Homo sapiens: one gene and its partners. The protein of the gene in region 2 interacts with the protein of the main gene of each other region in a pairwise test. Each region holds a gene or a part of one and is shown on either strand. Other genes may lie near its edges.

What was found.
Region 1: the proteins of ZNF765 (region 2) and DZIP3 interact in binary tests that used the Homo sapiens proteins (3 or more experiments, as listed by UniProt).
Region 3: the proteins of ZNF765 (region 2) and UQCC2 interact in binary tests that used the Homo sapiens proteins (3 or more experiments, as listed by UniProt).

What each region holds. Positions count from the first base shown.
Region 1 is NC_000003.12:108,584,946-108,592,721, reverse strand, and holds the start of DZIP3 (E3 ubiquitin-protein ligase DZIP3), read right to left. Parts: upstream 3,001-7,776; 5' UTR 2,883-3,000; exon of another isoform or gene 2,626-2,882; intron 1-2,625. Other genes in the region: protein CIP2A, read left to right, coding at 3,347-3,448, 7,510-7,657. UniProt on the Homo sapiens protein: E3 Ubiquitin ligase proteins mediate ubiquitination and subsequent proteasomal degradation of target proteins.
Region 2 is NC_000019.10:53,404,816-53,412,687, reverse strand, and holds the end of ZNF765 (zinc finger protein 765), read right to left. Parts: intron 4,991-7,872; coding exon 3,561-4,990; 3' UTR 679-3,560; downstream 1-678. UniProt on the Homo sapiens protein: May be involved in transcriptional regulation.
Region 3 is NC_000006.12:33,708,701-33,716,664, forward strand, and holds the start of UQCC2 (ubiquinol-cytochrome c reductase complex assembly factor 2), read right to left. Parts: upstream 3,001-7,964; 5' UTR 2,987-3,000; coding exon 2,849-2,986; intron 2,750-2,848; exon of another isoform or gene 2,608-2,749; intron 2,548-2,607; exon of another isoform or gene 2,335-2,547; intron 2,152-2,334; exon of another isoform or gene 1,995-2,151; intron 1,064-1,994; exon of another isoform or gene 879-1,063; intron 1-878.

The DNA.
Region 1 (7,776 bases), on a different chromosome or scaffold from region 2:
TTTTTTTTTTTTTTTTGAGACAGGGTCTCCCTCCTGTTGCCCACATTGCCCAGGCTGGAGTGCAGTGGGGCAAACATGGCTTACTGCAGCCTTGACTTCCCAGGTTCAGGTGTTCCTCCCATGACAGCCTCCTGAGTAGCTGGGACTACAGGCATGCACCACCCACACCCATCTAATTTTCTGTATTTTTAGTAGAGGTGGGGTTTCACCATATTGCCCAAGCTGGTCTTGAACTCCTGGGTTCAAGAGATCCTCCTGCCTCAGCCTCCCAAAGTGCTGGAATAAAAGGCATGAGCCACTACGCCTGGCACACCCTTAATACTTTCTATTAACTAACTCAGCAGTATCTGTATCTTCTCATTCATCCAACCTAAAAACTTAGTATCTGCTAGACTCATCCCTCTCTTCATGCCTCACATCCACTATCAGTCACCAAATCCTACCTATTTTACTTCATATATACTTCTCGAATTTGTCACCTATTTTGTATCTCCACCTCAATTATCCTGGTTATCCTTTAGAAGGTTCCAGAAAATTAGTGTCCCTCTTTCCAGTCTTATCCTCCCCAAAATCATAGTTCATTCAGCTACCAGAGTAATCAATCTAAAAACAAACCTGACTAGACCAGGTGCCAGTTTAAAACCAGAGATTGCCACGGACTTCAAGATGGAGTCCAAGTTTAAGGCTAATAAGGCCTTTGGTCATTGGGACCCAGACTCATCTCTTTTTTTTTTTTTTTTTTTGACAGGGTCTCACTCTGCCACCCAGGCTACAGTGCAGTGGCACAATCACACTCACTGCAGCCTCAAGTGATCCCCCCAACTCAGCCTCCAGAGTAGCTAGGACTACAAGTGAGCACACCCATGCCCGGCTAATTTTTTCATTTTTTGTAGAGATGGCGTTTCACTATGTTGCCTAGGCTGGCTCCAACTCCTGGGTTCAAGGTCCTCCTGCCTTAGTCTCCCAAAAAACTGGAAATTAAAAGCGTGAGCCACTGCTCCTGGCCTCCTGCTCCTTTTCTTCCCTTTTTGAGGCCTAAAAGTATGGATTGGTGTTTCTCAAATTAGGATATGCAAGTATCTCTGATTAAAAATGTCAAGACTTATCACAGCTAGAAACGATCCCTCTTACTAAACTTACAACATCAATTTTGGTGAAGATTTTTTGAGAAAGACATTTGATATTAATTACAGAAGAGAATACAAAATTTGTATGACTGCTTAAGTCAAAATCCAACAAAGATGGCACTGATAGCACGCAGCTTTGCGCATTACCCTGGGCCTCTGAATGGGGACGATGCTGACACATCATCACAGATGAAAAGTCCAACACTATCAAACTCTGATCACTTCATTTGCCAATGAGGCACTGACTGTAACACTGAGAACTTAATTATGCCAGATGACAGCTGACACTTTACATTAATTCATTTTTTAACCATCTCCAAGACCGTATAGGACCTCATCTCTACTCCTCTCCTCCTCGTTCTTTCTACACTAGCCACATGGCATCCTTGTTTCTGGCATACAGTATCCCACTTTAGGGTCTTTCTTTGCCATTTCCTCTATCTAAAAACCTTTTCCCATAGAATATGGCTCCCTTTCTCAACTCCTTGAAGCATTTCCCCAAATGTTGCTTTCTTAATGAGGTCACCTTCCCATTTCCCTTATCAATTACCAACATTATTCTAGAGTAATAACGTCTATTTTTCTCTTTATATCATTTTCCTTACTTATTTATTGTGTTTATTATTTGGTTCCCTACCAAAATGTAAGTTGCATGCCAGTAGTATTTTTGTTTTTTTCACTGAGTCTATTGTGTCTAGAAAAGTGCTTAGCACATTGTAGATTCTCAATGAACTACTTATTGAATGAACAGTCCTATGAACCAGGTATCTCCCTTGGCCAGATTTTACCTAATGAAGATTCTGCAGCAGTGAGAACTTGCCTAGAGTCACATCGTCAAAGGTGGAGCTAGAATCTGTAAGCAACCTGGCTCTCTACTCTTTACCACTGCTGCATGTTACTGCATGGTGCCTCTCATTTATGTGGTGAATTTCAAAAGTACTATTTTGTATGTTTCCCTTACTAGACAGTTCCCTCGCAGCAGGGGATACTACTTCATCTCTGTTCCCTGACTGGCAGTTTCTAACCCATGTTACACGCTCTATAATTGTTTACGGAATGAATGAAAGCATAAATGAACACACAAGCTACCCAAAGATTTTTACATGAATGTCCCAACTGGTTAAATCATTTTTATCTTTCAGATTTAAACTTTTATAAAAAACAAAACCAAAACACCAAACCTGTCTTCAAAAATCTAGTAATTCAAAAAAATTCTTTTGAAGTGAAAAAACATGATTTCTGATAAACGATTTAATTAAATGGAAATGTACCCTATTCTTACAATTTCTACATCCTGGTTTTTAAAGCTTTATTCGACGTTAGGAAATATTAAGCAAAAAGCTCCAAAACCAGTAACTGACTCGCTTCATTACATACACATGCAATAATATTAAGCTATCTCCGATTTAAAAAACGCAAATAATAGTGCCATTTTCGTAGACATCGAGAATTATAAAACAATCAATCATGCCAGAGAGAAACAGACACCTTCACTTACAAAAACTGACGCTAACGAGTAACACCCTCCGGAGCAATACCTGGCCCAGGGTCAGCAGGAGGTAGTCTTCTCGAATAAATGTGACAAATACTTTGGTCAGGGCATGACTAATTTGCCACATAATGCCAATAGGTTGACTCTGAGAAACTACCATCCCCGGGCAGAAGGGGCGGGTGTAGGAGAGATTTAAAAACGAGGCCCCTCCCAGGCCGCCTCAAAATCTAGGGCCCAAGATTCTTCTCCTCAGAGCTCCTCACCGTGTCTAGACTAGGGGCAAGCGACCATTTCTCAGGTAGAGGATGACGCACAAACGAAAAACTGGCCATCCAACATGAAGGACGAGGAAGCGCACGAAATCAGAGCGCACAGCTGAGTGAGGAATCCCCCTTCTCCTAACCGATTCCTCTCCCGAGAAATCGCGAGATTTCTCGCCTTCACGGGATCTCAGGCCGAAACCTCGCGGCCTCTCAGACGAGGGTGGGTTAGCGGGGGCAGCTCCCAACCCCCGTCCTGGACCCACAAATCACCTCGACCCCTGGCCCACCCCGGCCGTCACCGAGAACGGTCCCCTAGGGTGCCTAGGGACTTCCGGAGCCCGACCGGATCCGGAAGCTTCTGAGAGCGAGGGGGTGGGGCCGAAAATCAAAAAAAGCGCGGCGAAAGCTAAAGGCCGGCGCACGCTGGGCGGTGGTGGTCCCTAAGCCGGGCCGCGGCCGGTGCAATGGACTCCACTGCCTGCTTGAAGTCCTTGCTCCTGACTGTCAGTCAGTACAAAGCCGTGAAGTCAGAGGCGAACGCCACTCAGCTTTTGCGGCACTTGGAGGTGAGAGGCTCTGGGGTAGAGGACAGATGGGGCTTCCCCTAGCAATTCTTATTTCACAGTGAGGCCGAGGAGTGGCGGCCCCAGCCTGGGAAAGAAAGGACAGTCCTTCGATCCCTCTGTTGTCTTTTCGTACTGGTAAAGGCTAGTGAGTGTCGGGGTTCCGCTGGCCGCAGCGAGAGGCAAGAGCGCTCACTGAAGGCTCTAGGAAAAGCGGGAGTGGGGCAAAAGGTTGGGAAGTTCAGGTTGTTTCGAGTAGGTAACGGAAAAAGCTCGGAACTTTATCTTTTCCTTTGCTTCTAGTTTTGGTTTTTCTACGAAACCAAGCCCTCAATACACAACTATTCTCAGTGACGGAAAGTCATGATTAAAACTTGGTTTTGCCCTTCGGTAATCTATAATTGAATTTGTTGCTTACTGCTCTTACTTGAACTCGGGTTGAACTCAAACTTGAAAAACATTATTTCAACATTAAGAAGCACTTCCCCTTCCTAGTAAGCGTAATCCTTTTTCTTTACCAAAATACATTGCTTACAGTTTTTTAATCTTAGAATGCTGAATTGCCTTTTTTTCTATTCTAGTGATATGTGTCCAGACGATTCCGTTTGTTTTAGGATCTTAATCTTCTGCTTTCATTTGTTTTGCATTTACGGAATTCAAACTAACATTGACCTCAGTTTAATTTTTTTAAAGCTCAATTAAGGCTTATTTTAACTCTCTGTGTCACAGCTTTCCTCTGTTAAGGTAGAATTGAACATAATTTTAAAATATATTGTATTATATTAACCCTATGATAAAAGACTAATGTGCCAAAAATTTGTAAAATATTACAGGAAAAAAATGATTTCCAGTAGTAGAGCAACAGCAGCTGTTAGTGAAGCTGCTGTTGTATTAAATGTGTCTGTCTTATCTTGAGCTTCACTGGTGCTCCTCTTTTCCCTACTTCAAGTGCCCATCTCCTAAGTACATTTGTTTTCTCTTTTTCATTCTTTATTTTAAGAAGTGCCTGCAAACCTAATAATTAAGGTGTTAGCTGTTAAATGCTTAAGGCTTTGCTTCTGAATTAGCATAGGCTCCAGAAGCCGCAGAATAAGCAGGGCAGTCCGTTTAATTTAAAAATCGGGAGTTAAGCATTTTGTATGCTATTCTGAAGCATTACCTTTCTTTGAATAAACAGGAAGGTTGTGCACTGAAAGAGATTTAAGGCACAGGGGCTTACACCTGTAATCCCAGCACTTTGGGAGGCCGAGGCGAGCGGATCACCTGAGGTCGGGAGTTTGAGACCAGCCTGACCAACATGCGAAACCCCGTCTCTACTAAAAATACAAAAATTACCTGGGCGTGGCGTCTCTCTGTTGTCCCAGCTACTCGGGAGGCTGAGGCTGGAGAATCGCTTGAACTCGGGAGGCTGAGGTTGCATAAGTAGAGATCGCTCCACTGCACTCCAACATGGGTGACAGAGTGAGACTCCGTCTCAAAAACAAAACAAAAAAAAAGAGAGACTTAAACAAAATATGGGATGGGGTCTTTACTGTATTCCTAAACTTTCAAGGGGTTTACATAAAACTCTTCTACCGTTGTTGCAAAGGTATGAAGAGCACTGGCTTCAGGTTACTACTAAAAAGGACTTTTTGTAATTAAGAGATAAAATACATACAGAGCATAAAGTGCATTAATCTTAAGTGAAGAGTTTGATAGTTTTTAATATATAGGTACCATAGCTACCATATTGGTAGCTAACATATAGGTAGAGTAGCTACCACCTGTATCATGATACAGAACATTTCTAGCCCCATAGGGTTTCTTCATTGCCTCTTCACATAAGGTTTGGGTAAGTAGACTCATACAATATGTACTCTTGTGTCTGGCCTTTTCCACTCAATAAAATCTGTGAAATTCATGTTGCACATGTACCGCTACTTCATTTTTTTTATTATTGATGTGTAGAATTCTATTGTATAAGTGTACCACAGTTTACATACACTTTCCTGTTGATAGGCATTTGGGTTGTTTACATTTCTGGGTGGAATTAAGAATAAAGCTGTTGTAGACATACATTTTTTGTGGATATATGCACACATTTATATACTTAGGAGTAGAATTGTTAGAGCATTGGAACATATGCCTATATGTTCCGTTTTAGTTGAAACTGCCAAACAATTTTCTGAAATATGCCATTTTATCTTCCCACTAGCAATATGTGAAATTTACCATCACTTATCCACACCAACCCTTGATGTTTTCATATTTCTTAATTTTAACCATTTTGGTTGACAGTATTTGTATTTTTAATGGTGAATGTCTTTGTACAGACTTCATGAGAGCGAGATCTGAGTATGCAAAGAGAGATGGGTATCATGTGAAAGGAGATTATTCATTCTTCTGTACTTCTCCCACACTTTTATAGCCCCATGCAGAGTGTAGGCTTTGAATGTTTGATGACTGGCAAAGCTGAGCTAATCTGATTTTTAATGATGATGTTTCATAACACTAATTTTGTGTAGTGATTAAAAGCATGAATTCAGGAACCAAGCTGCCTAGATATGAATTCCAGTTGTGCTTCTTTACTATCAGTGTGTACCTCAGTTTACTCATCTGCAAAACAAAATAGTGGTACCTACCTTATAGAGTTATTATGAAGATGAAAAGAGTTCACATATGTAAAGTGCCTAGATCGATGCCTAGGCCAGAGTAAGTGCTGTATAAGTATTAGTTATTATTAAAATAAATTATCTTTGTTTTAAGAGATTCAGTATAAGTAAAGGGAAAACTTGTAAAGCAATTTTTATTTTACCTAGTGCATATAATTATTACATGTTAGACAATTTATGTTAATGAGATACAGGACCAATCCTATAGAGAATCATTTTTAAAACAGCAAGTGTCTTATTCTGGAGAGCTAGATTTATAAATAAGCAACAGGGTAATGCCCACAGTATTTCCTACCCCAGAATATCTGTTACTGGCATCTGCACTTTCATATTTGGACTTATTTTTTCTTGTATAGACTTTTACTTTAGTAATGTTAAAACACTCCTTGGGAACAGATAATGTGAAACTCTTATCAGCAAAGCCTTAGAAGAAAAACTGATGTGGGTGAGAGAATAAAGGGAGGATACAGAAAGGAAAGATTAGAGGGATGCTAAAGCAGCCTGCTTAGGCTTGATCTTATTAAAATAAGTATTCAGGACAGAGTTAGTCTTATTCTAAGGTAACTAATGGTTTTGCCATCTTTGTAGAAAAGATATGCTTTGTAATAAATACATCCATAAAGTATGTTGAAAATTCATGCTTTGAGACAACTGCTTTTGGCCTTTAGTTCCAGCTTTACCTCCTCTCTTCTCTCTTTCACTCTGTGTGTGTGTGTGTGTATGTATGTGTCTGTGCATGCGTGTATGTGGCTTATAGATTACAAGAAAGTAAAAAAAACAATGGAATAATCAGAAATAAAATTTTTCAATGCCTTGCCTGGCTACTTAAAAAAAGATTCACTTTTCACTTCCTTCTTTAATCCCTTAACTTCTGAGCTCACCTATTGTCTTTGGGAAGAAGCAGAAGGAATAATCCCATAACTACCCTCTGGGCTTCATTTTTCATTCTCCTCCCTCAAAGTAAGTAGAATGTATTAGAATTTATTTGCATAGTAAATATATTGGTACTAGAGTGCAGATTTGTAGGCTATGCCTTCATCGCATGTTCAATGTAGTGTGAAGGAGAAATATTGCTAGGAACTCAAAAGTTTGCTAACTTAGGAAATAGAAATATAATGTACTATAGGATAGCATAATAGGCCGACCGAACTGAGATGGTATAAGAAACTAAGAAAAGCTTCCTGGTGGAAATTATTTTAAACTGAGATCCAAATGATTACTTTAGCTAGGGAGGGAGGGATTAGGTAATTGATGGGTACTCTAGGCAGGGGTGAATTTTTCACAGCATGTGTGAATTTTTTAAATTGGGAAGGTAGCAGTGGCACTTTGAGGGAACTGAGTTTTTTATTTGAAATGGAGAAGAGATGAAAATTGCCATCGCTTAACCAACACATTTTGATTACTATTTTATAGGTAATTTCTGGACAGAAACTCACACGACTATTTACATCAAATCAGATATTAACAAGTGAATGCTTGAGTTGCCTTGTAGAGCTACTTGAAGACCCCAACATAAGTGCTTCACTGATCTTAAGTATTATCGGTTTGCTGTCTCAACTAGGTAATGCATTTAATTTCTCCTTTTTAGTTTTTGGAAGATGTATGAACAATATTTTAAAGTGCAGGCTTAGTTATAGAATCTCTTAAAGAATGATTCACCTTCAAAGACTTCTCAGTCTA
Region 2 (7,872 bases):
TTAGCAGGGTGTGGTGACACTGCATCTGATCTCATCATAAATTTGATGTTTCTTTTTGTTTCAATTTTAGCAGAATTTATTTTACTTTGATAGAGTCTCTTTTCAAACTTATGTCTTATCCTTCTGAGTGCCTTCAACTACAGCCTGTTCAGACATGTTATAACAGACTTGTACCAGTTTAATTTGGTGCAAAAACTGTGAAATTCATGCACAATTTTCTCATAATATGTATTTTTCCATGAACTTCATCAAGATCCCTTGTACTAGAAAACTGTATTCAAGAGGATGTAAAAAGGATTGTAGATATTCAAGTGCCACTTATTTCTGGGATGCAAGGATGGTTCAACATATTCAAGCAAATCAATGTGATATGCCACTTGAACAGAATGAAAGATGAAAACCACATCATCTTAATAGAGGGAGAAAAAGCATTTCACAAAATTCAAAATCCAGTCATCATAGAAATCCTAAACAAAATAGATAGAAAGGAAATTTACCTAAACAATAGAAAGACCATCCATGAAATGACCAATGAGTGAATAATCAAGTAGGGAAAATGGAATGCCTTTCCTGGAGGATCTCACATGATGCAAGAGTGCTCTCACCCCTTCTATTCAATCAATACTGGCTGTCCTAGCTAGAGCAATTAAATAGCAGAAGAAATCAAACTCATCGAAATCAGAAAGAAAGAAGTAAAATTATATTTGTTTGTAGACGACATGATCTTCTGTGCAGAAAATCACAAAGAGTCAACCAAAATACTACTGGAACTAAGTAACATATTCAGTGGATTTGCACAATACAGTATCAGCACCAAAAATTAGTTGAATTTCCATACTTTTAACAACAAACAACTTTAAAAGAAAATTTTAAAACACTTCCATTGGCTGGAGAACTTAAAGTAAGAAATACTTAGAAATAAACGTAAAAAGGTCAGAGGTTTTTACCTTGAAATCTACAAACATTGATCAAAATGATTAGAAACATAGAGCTACAACCCATACTTATGGTTTGGAAAAATTAATATTGTTAAATGATTATATAACCCAATGTGATTTAGATTCAACACGGTACCCATAAAAATCCTTATCACTGGGGCTGGGCGCAGTGGCTCACGCCTGTAATCCCAGCACTTTGGGAGGCCGAGGTGGGTGGATCATCTGAGGCTGGGAGTTCAAGACCAGCCTAACCAACATGGAGAAACCCCATCTCTACTAAAAATACAAAATTAGCTGGGCGTGGTGGCTCATGCCTGTAATCCTAGCTACTCTGGAGGCTGAGGCAGGAGAATTGCTTGAACCTGGGAGGCGGAGGTTGTAGTGAGCTGGGATCGCTCCATTGCAGTCCAGCCTGGGCAACAAGAGTGAAACTCCATCTCAAAAAAAAAAAAAAAAATCCCTATCAGTTTTTGTTAAAGAAACAAAAAACAGGCTGGGAAAATGGCTCACGTCTGTTGGCCAGGCTGACCTCAAACTCCTGAACTCAAGTGATCTACCGGTGCTGGCCTCCCAAAGCGCTCAGATTACAGGTGTGAGCCACTGTGCCTGGCCCAGTCCTCTTAACATAAACACTTTAATGTCAATTAAGGCTTCAACTCAATGTTAAGTCAAACTCAAGTCAATGCTGAACTGACTCTAGTGTCAATTAATGCTTGATGGTTTGCTATACACATTGTATTTGGAACAACTATCTCCAAAATGAATTTTCTGATATCCTGCAAGGAGTGAGCTCAGACTGAAGACTTTGGCACACTGATGACATTTATAAGATTTCTGTCCAGTATGCATTCTCTGATGTCTAGTGAGGTGTGAATGTGAATTAAAGGCTTTGCCGCAATCATCACACTTGTGAGGTTTCTCTCCTGTATGAATTCTCCTATGTTTTGCATAGAATGAAGCTTGACTGAGACCTTGTCACAATCATGACATTTGTAAGGTTTCTCTCCAGTACGAGTTCGCCGATGAACTGCAAGTTATGAACAATGTCTGAAAAATTTGCCAAATTTATTAAACTAGTATGATCTCTCTTCATTATGGATTCTCCAATGATTCGCAATGGTTGTAGTGTAACTGAAGACTTTGTGACAATCATTACATAAGTAAAGTTTCCCTACACCATGGATTGCCTGATGGTAAACAAGTGTTGACTGCCCACTAAAGACCTGTCACATTCATTATACTTGTAAGCTTTCTCTCCAATGTGAATTCTAGGATGTTGTGCCAGGTGCGAATTATGCCTGAAAGCCTTGTCACAAACTCTTACATTTTTATGCTATCTCTCCAGTAGGAATTCTCCTGTGTCTTTCAAGGTTTGAGTGTGACTGAAAACTTGGTGACATTCTTCACATATGTAAGCTTTCTCTCCAGTATGAATTCTCCTGTCTTTGGAGGCTTGATTTGCGACTGTAAACTTTGTCACATGCTTCACATTTGTAACGTTTATCTCCAGTATGAATTCTATGATGATGTGCAAGCTTTGCTTTTTGATTTAAAACCTTGCCACGTTCATTACACTGCTAAGGTTTCTCTCTAGTATGAATTCTATGACTATCAAGGTTTGATTTGAATCTGAAAGCTTCATCACATTCTTCACATTTGTAAGGTTTCTAATACGACTTCACCCATGAACTGCAAAGGTATGAAGGATGTCTGAAAAATTTTCTGCATTTATTCTGCATTTATCACACTTGTAGGATCTCTCTTCATTATGGATTCTCCAATGATTTGCAATAGTTGTAGCATTACTCAAGACTTGGTGACAATCATTACATTTGTAAAATGCTGACTGCCCATGAAAGGTTTTTCTACACTCATTATCCTTGTAAGGTACCTCTCCAGTATGAAGTCTACGATGGTGCGTAAGGTATGACTTCAGACTAAAGGTCTTGCCACACTCACTACACTTTTAAGGTATCTCTCCAGTATGAAGTCTATGATGGCATGTAAGGTATGAGTTCTGACTAAAGGTCTTGCCACACTCATTACATTTGTAAGGTATCCTCCAGTATGAAGTCTACGATGGCGTGTAAGGTATGAGTTCTGACTAAAGGTCTTGCCACACTCATTACACTTGTATGGTTTCTCTCCAGTATGAATTCTCCTTTGTCTTTCAAGGTTTGATTTGAAATGGAAAACTCAAATTCTTCACATTTGTAAGGTTTCTCTCCAGTACGAAGTCTACAATGGCATGTAAGGGATGAGGTCTGGCTGAAGGTCTTGCCACACTCATTACACCTGTAAGGTTTCTCACCAGTGTGAATTCTCCTATGTCTTTCAAGGTTGGATTTGAAACAGAAAGCTTCTTCACATTCTTCACATTTGTAAGGTCTCTCCACTATGAAGTTTATGATGGTACACAAAAGATGACGTATGACTCAAGGTCTTGCCACACTCATTACACTTGTAAGATTCTCTTCAGTACGAATTTTCTGATGTATTTCAAGGTTTGATTTGAAATTGTAAGCTTTGTCAAGTTCTTCATATTTGTAAGGTTTCTCTCCACTATGAAGCCTACGATGGCATGTAAGGGTTAACTCCTGATTGAAGGTCTTACCACACTCATTACACGTGTAGTTTCTCTCCAGTATAAATTCTCCTATGTCTTTCAAGGTTTGATTTGAAACTGAAAGCTTCATCACAATCTTCACATTTGTAAGGTTTCTGTCCAGTATGAAGTCTATGATGGTATGTAAGGGATGACGTCCGGCTGAAGGTCTTGCCACACTCATTACACTTGTAAGGATTCTCTTCAGTATGAATTTTCTGATGTATTTCAAGGTTTGATTTGAAACTGTAGGCTTTGTCACATTCTTCACATTTGTAAGGTTTCTCTCCACTATGAAGTCTACAAATGTTAAGGGTTAACTGCTGATTGAAGGTCTTGCCACACTCATTACACTTGTAAGGTTTCTCTTCAGTATGAAGTCTACGATGGTATGTAAGAGATGACTTGTGACTAAAGGTCTTGCTACACTCATTACACTTGTAAGGTTTCTCTCCAGTATGAACTCTATGATGGCATGTAAAATGTGACTTCCGACTAAAGGTCTTGCCACACTCATTACACTTGTAAGGTTTCTCTCCAGTATGAAGCCTACGATGGCATGTAAGGTACGACTTCTGACTAAAGGTCTTGCCACACTCATTACACTTGTACGGTTTCTCTCCAGTATGAATTCTCCTATGTATTTGAAGCTTTGATTTGAAATGGAAAGCTTTGTCACATTCTTCACATTTGTAAGGTTTCTCTCCAGTATGAAGTCTACGATGGCATGTTAGGTAATATGTCTGACTGAAGGTCTTGCCACACTCATTACACTTGTAAGGTTTCTCACCAGTGTGACATCTACGATGGCGTGCAACGTATCGCTTCGAATTAAAGACCTTGCCACATATATCGCATTTATATTGTTTCTCTCCTAAATGGATTAACTGATGTTTCCTTAAGAGTGAGCTACAATTATAGGCTTTGCCACTGTCATTGCATTGGAAAGATTTTTCCCTCATATGTACTTCCTGTTTTTGTGTGAATAATGAAGAATTCAGGAAATTATTCCCATAGTCATTAGAAATATGGGTTTCAGGCCTACAAGAAATTCTTTGGGCTGTTGAAACCAAGGAAGCATCGTGGATAGACTTCACAACTTGATTATCAATTTTCTCTTCAGTGTGAAATATGTGCAGTTCAGGCAGATGCGAATGAAAGCTGAATCCAAGCTGATATTTAACAGGCTTGTTTCCAGCATAATTTTGATCATATCGCTCTGTACTACCTGTCAACTTTTTGATTTTTGTCATGAGTGCTTCATGGCCATTTCTTTCATCTTCTTGCCACTGAAACTCAATGTCATGAATATCTTTATCAATATCCTGGAAACAAAAATCTCCATTGTGATGACTTTCATGTCTTTGAGATGTCCCTGCATGGAACACTTCTCTATTGCCTTGTGCTGTTGACGAGAACTCCTTCATCATGCATTTGGAAGAGATATCTAAAAAGTATACACACCAAAAGGTTTCAAATTAAGTACAGATGGTAAATAATGCTGAAATGTGTAAATATGACACAAAAAACAATACTTATTTTAAACTTTGCAAACATGACCCTCAAAGTTTAGGAACAGAAAAGCATAAGATTCTTTAACAAATAAAGGGCGATTACATGTGCTTCAAATTATTTTTACGGAAGTCTATTTCCAATATCGTGACAAAACACTGACAGGGCACAAAAACGTGTAGCCTAAAGTAAGGAATATTTTTCCATCGTGACCCTAAAGTGTCTAACAGTTTGTAAAAAACATATCACTGTCACATCAATGAAAAGTATATATTCTTCACATTTACAGCATATTTACTGTATACAAATAGATGCTAAAGGACCACATGATGTACTGTGTTGGAAAATAATCCACAACAAGATTATGTAAGGATAACCAAAATCAATGGAAATTCTGTATTGTCAAACAATCATAGCACTGAGAAGATAAGAAAAGATTACAAAATGTAATTTTTAATCTTTTTTAGTCCCAAATTTTTAGTCCCACGTACTCATGGGACTCACGAGGCACAAGAATCGTTTGAACCCAAGAGGCAAAGGTTGCAGTGAGCTGAGATTGCACCACTGTACTTCAGCCTGGGTGACAAAGTGAGATTCCATCTTGAAAAAAAATGTTAATACAATGTTTTTCTGAATAACTGTCATAAAATTACCTATATCCTTGCAGAAAAGGCACATTTTGACATTTTTAAACAAATTTTTTATTTTTATATTTTTGAGATGAAGTTTCACTCTGTCACAACCGCCTGGAGTTCAATGGCCCGATCTCAGCTCACTGCAACCTCCACCTTTTGGGTTCAAGCCATTCTCCTGCCTCAGCCTCCTGAGTACCTGGGATTACACGCACACACTACCACGTTTGGCTAATTTTTGTATTTTTAGTAGAGATAGGGTTTCAACATGTTGGCCAGGCTGGCCTCGAACTTATGACCTCAAGTGATCCAGCCACCTCAGCCTCCCAAAGTCCTGGGATTGCAGGCGTGAGCCACAGCATCCGGTGGCACTGTGTGACATTAACTAGTGGACTGTGTCAGTTATATTGCATACCACATACCGAAAAGCCTCATGTACAATCATAAAAATTAATTAGTAAAATATTGTAACCCATAAAACCAGGAAGCAAATAATAAGTACATTTATACAACATGCAAAATTCTAAACAATTCCCTGTTAAGAAAAATGCCACGACTTCTACTTGCCACCAGCAGACAATATAAGAACTGAAATACATGTTAAGATCACTACCTTCTGACTTATGAGGTCAAAAAAATACACAGCATTATAAGGAATAAGAATTGACTAACGGCTGGACACGGTGGCTCAGGTCTGTAATCCCAGCACTTTGGGAGGCTGAGGTGGGCAGATCATGAGGTGAGGAGTTCAAGAGTAGCCTGGCCAACATGGTGAAATCCCCACTCTACTAAAAATACAAAAAAATTAGCTGGGCATGGTGGTGGCTGCCTGTAATCTCAGCTACTTGGAAGGCTGAGGCAGGAGAATCATTTGAACCCAGGAGGTGGAGGTTGTAGTGAGCCGAGATTGCACCTGTGCACTCCAGCTGAGTGACAGAGTGAGATTTCATCTCCAAAAAAAAAAAAAAAAAAATTGACTAACGGTGTCAGAGGGTGCAATTATGATGTCACAACTACATTTATGAAACAGCCAGGCAATACAGCAATTTTATATATATATATATATATATATATATATATATATATATATATATATAGTTGGTATTAATTATCTAGTTCACTATGCACAAAATATAAAACATAGAATGTGTACTGGGAAAATTTTTAAACTGAGATCAGTGAAAACATTTTATAAATCAAATCATACAATAAAAACACAAACAATATGATGCAGCCTCCCTGGTCTGAATGTTCATATTGGCCAAAAGCCATGTTCAGAGTTCTTATTCTCCAAAAGGATGTTCTGCAGATGGGGCCTTTGAGACAATTTGGTCATGGGTGTTGACTACTCGTGAATAGGACTTGTGCTTTCATAAAAAGAGATATTAAAGAGCTCGTTGCCTGTTCCTGTTTCCACCATGTCAGGACACGGCAGGAAGATGGCTGGGCTAAACCATGAAGAATGCTCTCACCAGGAACCAATTTGGCTGGCACCTTGCTCTTGGATTTCCCACTTTCCAAATTCATGAGAAATAAATTTCTGTGTCTGAAGCCTCCCAGTTTAAGCTATTTCTCTTTTTGTTTGTGTTTGAGACTGAGTCACATACTATCACCCATGCTGGAGTGTAGTGGCATGATTTTCCCACCTCAGCCCGGAGTCTTACTTTGTTGCCTGGACTGGAGTGTAGTGGGGCAATCTTGGCTCACTGCAACCTCCACCTCCCAGGTTCTAGTGATTCTCCTGCCTCGGCCTCTCAAGTACTTGGGATAACAGCCTTGCGCCACCACGCTCAGCTAATTTTTGTATTTTTAGTAGAGACGGGGTTTCAACATGTTGGCCAGGCTGGTCTTGAACTCCTGACCTCAGGTGATCTGCCCCTCTCGGCCTCCCAAAGTGCTGGGATAACTGGCTTGAGCCACCGTGCCCGGCCAAATTCTTGTATTTAGTAGATTTGAGGTTTCACCATGCTGGCAAGACTGGTCTCAAACTCCTGACTTCAAGCGATCTGCCCACCTTGGCATCCCAAACTGTTGGGATTAGAGGTGTGAGCCACCTCGGGTGGCCAGTCTAAGCTATTTCTGACAGTGAAATGACTGAGGCAGGAACAGGAGCATCTCATCATCAACATCACTGAAGGCTGACAAATCTGATTAAACAAAGGAAGTTTAGAGCCTGTACCATAAA
Region 3 (7,964 bases), on a different chromosome or scaffold from region 2:
CAGTTTAATGAAGAGCCTACCAGAATCATCTTGCTTTCTCAAGGTCTTTATAAATGATCTGGGGGTGTCAGTAGGAGTGACTCACAATAGTGTTTTCAATTCCAGCAAGGAATTGCGCCCTTCAAAAATTACCACAAAGATTTACTAAGGCCAGGTGCATTCTCAGGTGACATTAGGATGAGGTACCGCAACAGTGGTCCTGAGTAATGCACCTGCTGCCATTGTGCACTGGTTCACTCTACCAGGAATGCATTCATCAGCTGCTACAGAATCACTAACACAGCCATGAGTTGCATCTGCAGCTGGGACTCAAACCTGTGTGGGCCTTTGACTGATCAGAAACGATTGCCCTAGGTGATGACAACTCCGAAAGAGAAAACTCTTTCCTCCTTTGCTGGCTCCTCTTACACTAACAATCAAGCAAGTGAATGTTACGCTCTCTCACCTCCCCAAGGATGGAGCCGCTGACTGCTCAACTGTAAGCTCCTCAGTGGTGAAGGCCAGGTTATGGCCTTCCTCCATAGATCCTGCAATTTCCCAAACATGGTAAGCTCTCAAATCAATTCTCACCACTCAGGACACACAAATATTCCTTTCTCACTCTTCACAACTTCTCTTCATCTAGTTCTGCTACATCTGAAACTATATTCAAATTATCTTTGTCTCATGAGCCACAACCAATTATTTACTTATCCATTCAGACATTTACTGAGTGTTTTTTTATGGGCCAAGAACTAGCTAGACACTCGTAGGGGAGAGAGGGAAAGATAAAAATGGCATCATCTCTATTTTCAGGAAGCTCATACTAAAAATATGCAGGGAGTACAGCTTTAGAAAGTTCACGGGTTTGTAGAATTGGGACTAGATAAGATTCTTGCCTTAAAGATCTTTACACTTTGGGCCAGTGAAGACCACCATGAATAATGTGAGGGCCCTGGGTATCGTATAACCTGGGCCAGACACTCCCCAGGCTGCCAGCCAATCAGCAGTACAGTCACAATGATGCCACTGGGCGTGCTCCTGCTCCTTTAGGTGGGCTGGCTTGGCTCTGTTTCGGGCTAAGCTGAAAAAAAAAAAACCCATGTTCCTTCTGTAACAAGTCTTGGCCAAGTTTCACAAGTCATTTCTTCAGACTGTGTGTATATGCATCTCATTATCTCATTTCATTTCTGGTCTCTTGCCCGAGCCCCAGGCTCAAATATAGCACTGCCTACTTGACATTGCCACTTGGAAATCAGTGTACTTGGCATCTCAGGTTTAACCTGCTTAACACCGAACTCGAGATATTCTTCCTACACTTCACCTATTCCTACCTCAGTAAATGGCACCATCTTAGACCTAGATGCCCAGGCCAAAAAATATCTAGGTGCTATCTTTGGTTCCTCTCTTTTCCTTTATCCCACATCCCATATATCAGCAAGTCCTGCTGACTCAACCTGCGCATAACCTGAATCCAACCACTTCCATCTTCTGTGCTGCCGTCCTCATCCAACCCCCCACCATCTGTCGCTTATAGTACCATAATCGGCTTCTCTCCAGCCTCTTTTTTTGTTATTGCCCCCTATAGCCCACTCACCACATACAACCAGAATAGTCTTTTAAAAAGTAAATTAGGGCACATCAGTCCCCTCACTAAACATCCCCAGTGACTTCTCACTGGCCTTATAATGAGGTCTAAAGCTAATCAGAACAGATAATATCCTACTGTGCCTGGCTCCGGACCTTCACCTTAGCAAACTCCACCTTACTTACTACCCTGCAGCCATTCTGGCTTTCTTTCTGTCCTCAAACATGTCAATCTGCCTCCTGCCTCTGGACATGTGCAGTGTCTGGAATGTCCTTCCCGCCAAGTGTACATGGCTGGCTCATCCTCTTGCCTTAGGTCTCACCTATGTGTCATCTCCTCAGAAAGGCCCCACTAATAACATTACCCTTTTATCACGCTACCCTATTTTCTATCGATCACAGTACTTATCTGTCTTACGTACACTTACCTGCTTATTGTGTCCTGAACTACAATGTAAAACTTCATGCGGGCAGGACTTCACCTGTTTAACACTGCTGTTTCCCTAGCACCGTTCCAGGCATATGGTAGGTGCTCAATAAATACGAGCTATATGAATGAATGAATCCCAGAGCTGCAGCGCCAACCTGGAGGAAAGCAAGAACATAGGCCTACTACTCACACACAGCTGCGTGAGCTGAGGACCCAAACCTGCTGCACAGGCTTACAGGGGCTCAGGAAGAACGCAAACGCTTAGCGGGGACCTGCAGAGTTAACTGGGGATTAGCTCAGTCAATACACAACACTGCGAAATAATGAGGTAATGCTACCGTGACAAGGAAGCAAAAAGCTGAGGCTGTCACCAGCTGCCACTGGTGGTGTGGGTCTCAACTCTCTCTGCACCTTGAATCACCTGGAGAGCTTTTAAAACTCTGAGGTCAAGACCCCACCCCTAGAGATTCTGCATTTGAAGTTTTTGTTTGTTTTTTGATTTGTAGAGACGGAGTCCCACTATGTTGCCCAGGAGGTCATCCTGGGCTCAAGCGATCCTCCCGCCTCGGCCTCTCAAAGAGTGCTGGAATTATAGGTGTGAACCGCCGCACCCGGCCCATCTGGAGTTTAAAAAAAGCTTCTTCGGCAATTCCAAGGTGCAGCCGGGGGAGAGCGCTGAATACAACGGGCGTCGCTATCAGTAGCTCCCTGGGGGAAAAAGGGGGTCCGCGCTCACGTGCTGCCTGGAAAGAGGGCGCGCGCATGCGCAGATCCCCCTGCTAGCGCGCTCGTTGGCCCCGCCCCTGCCTCGTCCTTTCCTCCCCTCGTCCCAGCCGCCTCCCCGCCGGTCACCTGGGTATTCTCTCCCTCCCGAAAGGCCTGTGCTACCCGCTGTCGCAGGTAAGCGCCCAAGTCCCGGCCCCGTTTGGTCTCGTCCACTGGCCATTCCTCACAGAGCTTAAGAAAACGCCGGTACCGGCTGGCCGCCATCTTGGGCCCCGCGTGTTCCCGCCTTAGCGGGAGGAGTCGGCGCCGACGAATGGCGCTTGCGCACTAAGCCTCGCCGCCTGCCTTAGGAGTGGAGCGGGAGGCCGGAGTGGGCATGCGCGACTTTGTAGGCGCACCGCTACTCTCCGTGTAGGGGCGCTGCTCGCCTTTCTCTGCAAGCCGAGCTAATTCAGTCTTCGTCCTCCTGGAACCGGCCCAGCTCCCAGGGGCAAGGCGGACGTGGAGTACCCCAGAGACAGCTTTGCGTCTCTTTTTCAATGACTGCACAAGCTTGAGACTAAAAAACCCTCCCCCGAGGCCTCCGCTGTTTTGCATAAACCAATATATTTGCATGTAAATACAGGTTACTGGATGAAAATATGTTTGAACGTTGTTCGTGGGTGCCCCCGTACCTGTCACTATCCCTTGGTACTCGGCCTCAATTCCTTCTTTAGTGCTTCCTAGTTCTTGTTCTTCTCTGCCCAGTCCCTGTTAGTATCCCTTCTGTTCCCCCCTTCCTACCCCTCATAAGCCAGACATTTTTCTCTGGGAGGCGCAGGTTTTCTAGCATGAGCAATGCCAACTGTGTTGATTCAGACTAGAAAAACTTTTTTTTTCTTTACAATTTATTATTTTGTATTGTGGTAAAATACACATAACAAAATTTACTATCTTAACCATTTTTTTTAGACAAGGTCTTGCTATGTGGCCCATGCTGGTCTCAAACTCCTGGGCTCAAGTGATCCTCCCACCTTGGCCTCCCAAAGTGCTGGGATTACAGGTGTGAGCCACCACACCTGGCCTTAACCTTTTATTTATTTATTTATTTATTTTGAGATGGAGTCTTGCTCTGTGGCTCTGTCGCCCAGGCTGGTGTTCAGTGAATGGCGCAACCTCCGCCTCCCGGGTTCAAGTGATTCTCCTGCCTCAGCCTCCCAAGTAGCTGGGACTACAGGCGCCCGCCATCATGCCTGGCTATGTTTTGTATTTTTAGTAGGGACAGGGTTTTACCATGTTGGCCAGGCTGATCTCGAACTCCTGACCTCAGGCGATCCACCTGCCTCGGCCTCCCAAAATGCTGGGATTACAGGCGTGAGCCACGGTGCCCAGCCAGCCATTTTTAAGTGTACAGTTCATGGGTATGAAATAGCACTGAATAATGTTGTGCAGCCATCGCACCATCTCCGTAACTCTTGTAAAACTGAAACTCCATACTCATTAAACAATAAATCCCCATTTCCCCCTCTCCCCCCAGCCCCTGGCAACGACCATTCTATTTTGTCTGTATGATTTTGACTACTCTAGGTACCTCATGTAAGTGGAATCCTGCAGTATTTTTGCAACTGGCTTATTTTGCTTAGCATAATATTTTCACTTCAAGGTTCATTCATTTTGTAGCATATGTCAGAATTTCCTTCCTTTTTAAGGCTGAGTAATATTCCGTTGCATGTATATACCACATTTTGTTTACACATCCATTGATAGACACTTAGGTTGCCTCCATGTTTTAGCTCTTGTGAATAATGCTGCTATGAACATGGATGTACAGACATCTCAAGACCTTGCTTTCAATTCTTTTGGTATATACCCAGAAGCGGAATTGCTGGATCATATGGTAATTCTATTTTAAGTTTTTTGAGGAACTGCCATACTGTCTTCCACAGCAGCTGCACCATTTTGCACTCCCACCACCGGTGCACAAGGGTTCCAATTTCTCCACATCCTTACCAACATTTGTTATTTTCTGGTTTTTTGATAGTAACCATCATAATGGGTGAGGGCTGTATCTCAATGTAGCTTTGACTTGCATTTGTCTAATGATTAGTGATATTGAGTATCTTTTTATGTGCTTATCAGCCATTTGTATATCTTCAGAGAAATATCTATTCAAGTCCTTTACCTGTTTTTAATCGGGTTTTTTTTTTGTTGTTGTTGTTATTGAGTTTTAGGAGTTCTCTGTATATTCCAGATATTACTCCCTTCACAGCTATGTGATTTCAGAATATTTTCTCCCATTAAAATGTGTTTGTTTTATCAAGTCTTCTCTTATATGTCTCTAGCTACATCACCATGTGGACTAATTTTTGTTCTCAAAAGACTGTCCCACCATCTGCATTTTTCATAAGAAAGCCTCAGCCCCCCGTATATCTCCACTATCCTGTATTTAGCCAAGACCATCCAATGTGTACAAAACTTTGCTTCCTCCAAACCTTTTCCTTCTTGCCTTACCTACATTTTAAAGGTGAATCTAGGAGAGTCCTGCCTTCAAGAAGTTGATGGCCAAGTCTGGGAATGTGTACATAACCAGGACACAAAGTTACAGATGACGAGAGCTTTAACTGAAGTGTTAGACAATGCTAGAGAGTTTGGAGAAACAGATGTCTGCTGTTCAGGGGAGAGTGGGAGAAGATCAAGGATGGCTCCAAGAACAGCCAGAGGCAGGCCTGGGGTGGCAATGGGAAAGAGAGGGAGGAGTTTAATTTGAGGAAAGATCAATGGGTGATTTTAACTGGAATGGCTTTAACTGTTCCGAAGATGTTAGGAGTCAAGACCATTAAAGGAAAACCTCTGGGGACCAGAATGTGTGATGCCCGCTGAGGTAAGGAGAGTTCAGGGGGAGTGGAAAATGAGGCGCCCAAGGGCACCTTCTCCAGAAAGCTCCCCTGATTAACCCCACCAGGTTCCCAGCCCAGCAGTCCCTCCTTGCTCCATCCTCACCTCATAGCCATGTAGTTTTGATGACACCCCTAAGGCACAAAGGGCAAGGATTGTATCTATTTACTTACCAAGGTCCAGGCACCTAGGGCTGTGCTGGGTGCCCCGAGGCGCTGTCATAGCCGTGGCTTTGAAGAGCACCTGACTGGTCCACATCTGTCCCAGGAGGCAGAGCCAAGGTCCCTCTGTCTTAGGCAACCAAAAAGTAACATTAGGTGGCAGCAAATGGTTTTCATGCTGCTTGAGGTACAAGGACAATGAGAGGTTGAGAAGAATGCTGGGCTCCAGAGGAAGCGCAAACAGATGCTTCCTCCTAAGGTGCTCCCTTCCCCTGTACCCTAGCTTCTCCGTCAGGCTGTGGTTGTCCCTGGTTCTGACTGCCCTGCCCACCTCTCTTCCTCCATATGGAGGTTGTTTGGCATGGTAGTTAAGTAGTAGGGTTATGGAGTCTGAGAGACCTGTTTGGAATGTAGGCTTGCTCATTCATTCATTCATTCATTCATTCATTCATTCACTTACTCACTGATCTATAGCCCTGATCACTCTATCAGTATAATTTTCTGGGGCCCAGTGCAAAATGAAAATGTAAAGCCCTTTGTTAAAAAATTGTTAAGGCCGGGCGTGGTGGCTTGTGCCTATAATCACAGCTACTTGGAGGCGGGAGGATCACTTGAGCCCAGGAGTTCGAGACCAGCCTGGGCCACATAGCGAGACCCGCATCTCCCCAAAAATTTAAAAAATTAGCTGAATGTGGTGGTGCACACCTATAGTCTTAGCTGTGTGGGAGGATGGCTTGACTGCTTTGAACCTAGGAGTCAGAGGCTGTAGTGAGCTGTGATTACACCACTGCACTCTAGCCTGGGTGACAGAGTGAGACCTTGTCTCTAAAAAAATTGTTAAGAATTTCAAGACAATAACAGCAGAGCATTAAAGCAAATGTAGCCCCTTCTGAGTGCAGGGCCCTGGGCGACTGTGCAGGCCACACACCCATGAAGCTGGCTCTGAGTTCCTGTCATGTGGTAGACAAGACAGGTGAGGGCCCTGCCCCTATGAGGACAGACAGCAACCAAGCAAACATATAATAATAATAGTGCTCTATATGTATTAGCTCATTTGCTGAATGAACAAGATAATTTCAGATGTGATAAGTGCGAAGGAGAGATCAAGGCAGAGTGCTGGGTCCACAGTGATTGGGGCAGGGGAGGGGTCAGTGGTCTGGAGGCCATCCCTGAGCAGCTTGTGAGTCACCTGAGGGGGCAGCCACGGGAAGATGGGCATGAGAGGCTTCCAGGAACAGGGCAGCAAAGGCAAAGGTCTTCAGAGCAGCCAACCCCAGGCGGGTTATTTAATTGCTGTAAGCTTCAGTTTCTTCATCTTAAAATGAGAACTATGATGATAAATTAACACCGAGTATTTACTATGTGCCAGCACAATTTTTTTTATTTTAATTTTTTATTTTTATTTTTTCTTTTTTAGAGACAGGGTCTCACTCTGTCACCCAGGCTGGAGTGTAGGAGCACAATCATAGCTCACTGCAGCCTCGAATTCCTGGGCTCAAGCGATCTTCCTGCTTCAGCCTCAGCCTCCTGAGTAGCTGGGACTGCAGGTGGCCACCACGATGCCCAGTTAATTGTTTTATTTTTTGTGGAGATGGGGTCTCGCTATGTTGCCCAGGCTGATCTCGAATCCTGGACTCAAGTAATCCTCTGGGCTTGGCCTCCCAAAGTGTTGGGATTATAGGCATGAGCCACTGTGCCCAGCCCAGGCACAATTCTAAATGCCTTACATGTATGGACTCATTTAGTCCTCACAATGGCTCTCAGATTTATGTACTACTGTTATCCTGCCATTTTTACAGAAACTGAGGAAACTGAGGCACAGAGAGGATAAGGTCACCAGCTGGTAAGTGGCAGAGCCAGGACTTGAGCCCAGGCTGGGTGGCTCAGAGCCGTGCTCTTGGCCACTCCCTCAGGCACCTCTTCAGGCCCCCTTGCAGCATTATCATCGTAAACCATGTGCGTGGTGTGTTTATACACCTGGTGTAGCCTTGGCCAGTGCCAGCACAAAGTAAGCCAACACATCGCAGTGGCTCTTATTGATCATTTTCTAGGCCCTTTTCCTTTCCCTGTGCCTGAAGATGGTTTCAGCCAGTCTGGACTGACCCGCTTGTCAATCACCCAGCGCCATTCCTAGCACATTAATAGGCACTGCCTGGAATGCAGCTGGGTGGTGCCAGCACCTTGGGGAGTTGATGACCATTTTAACA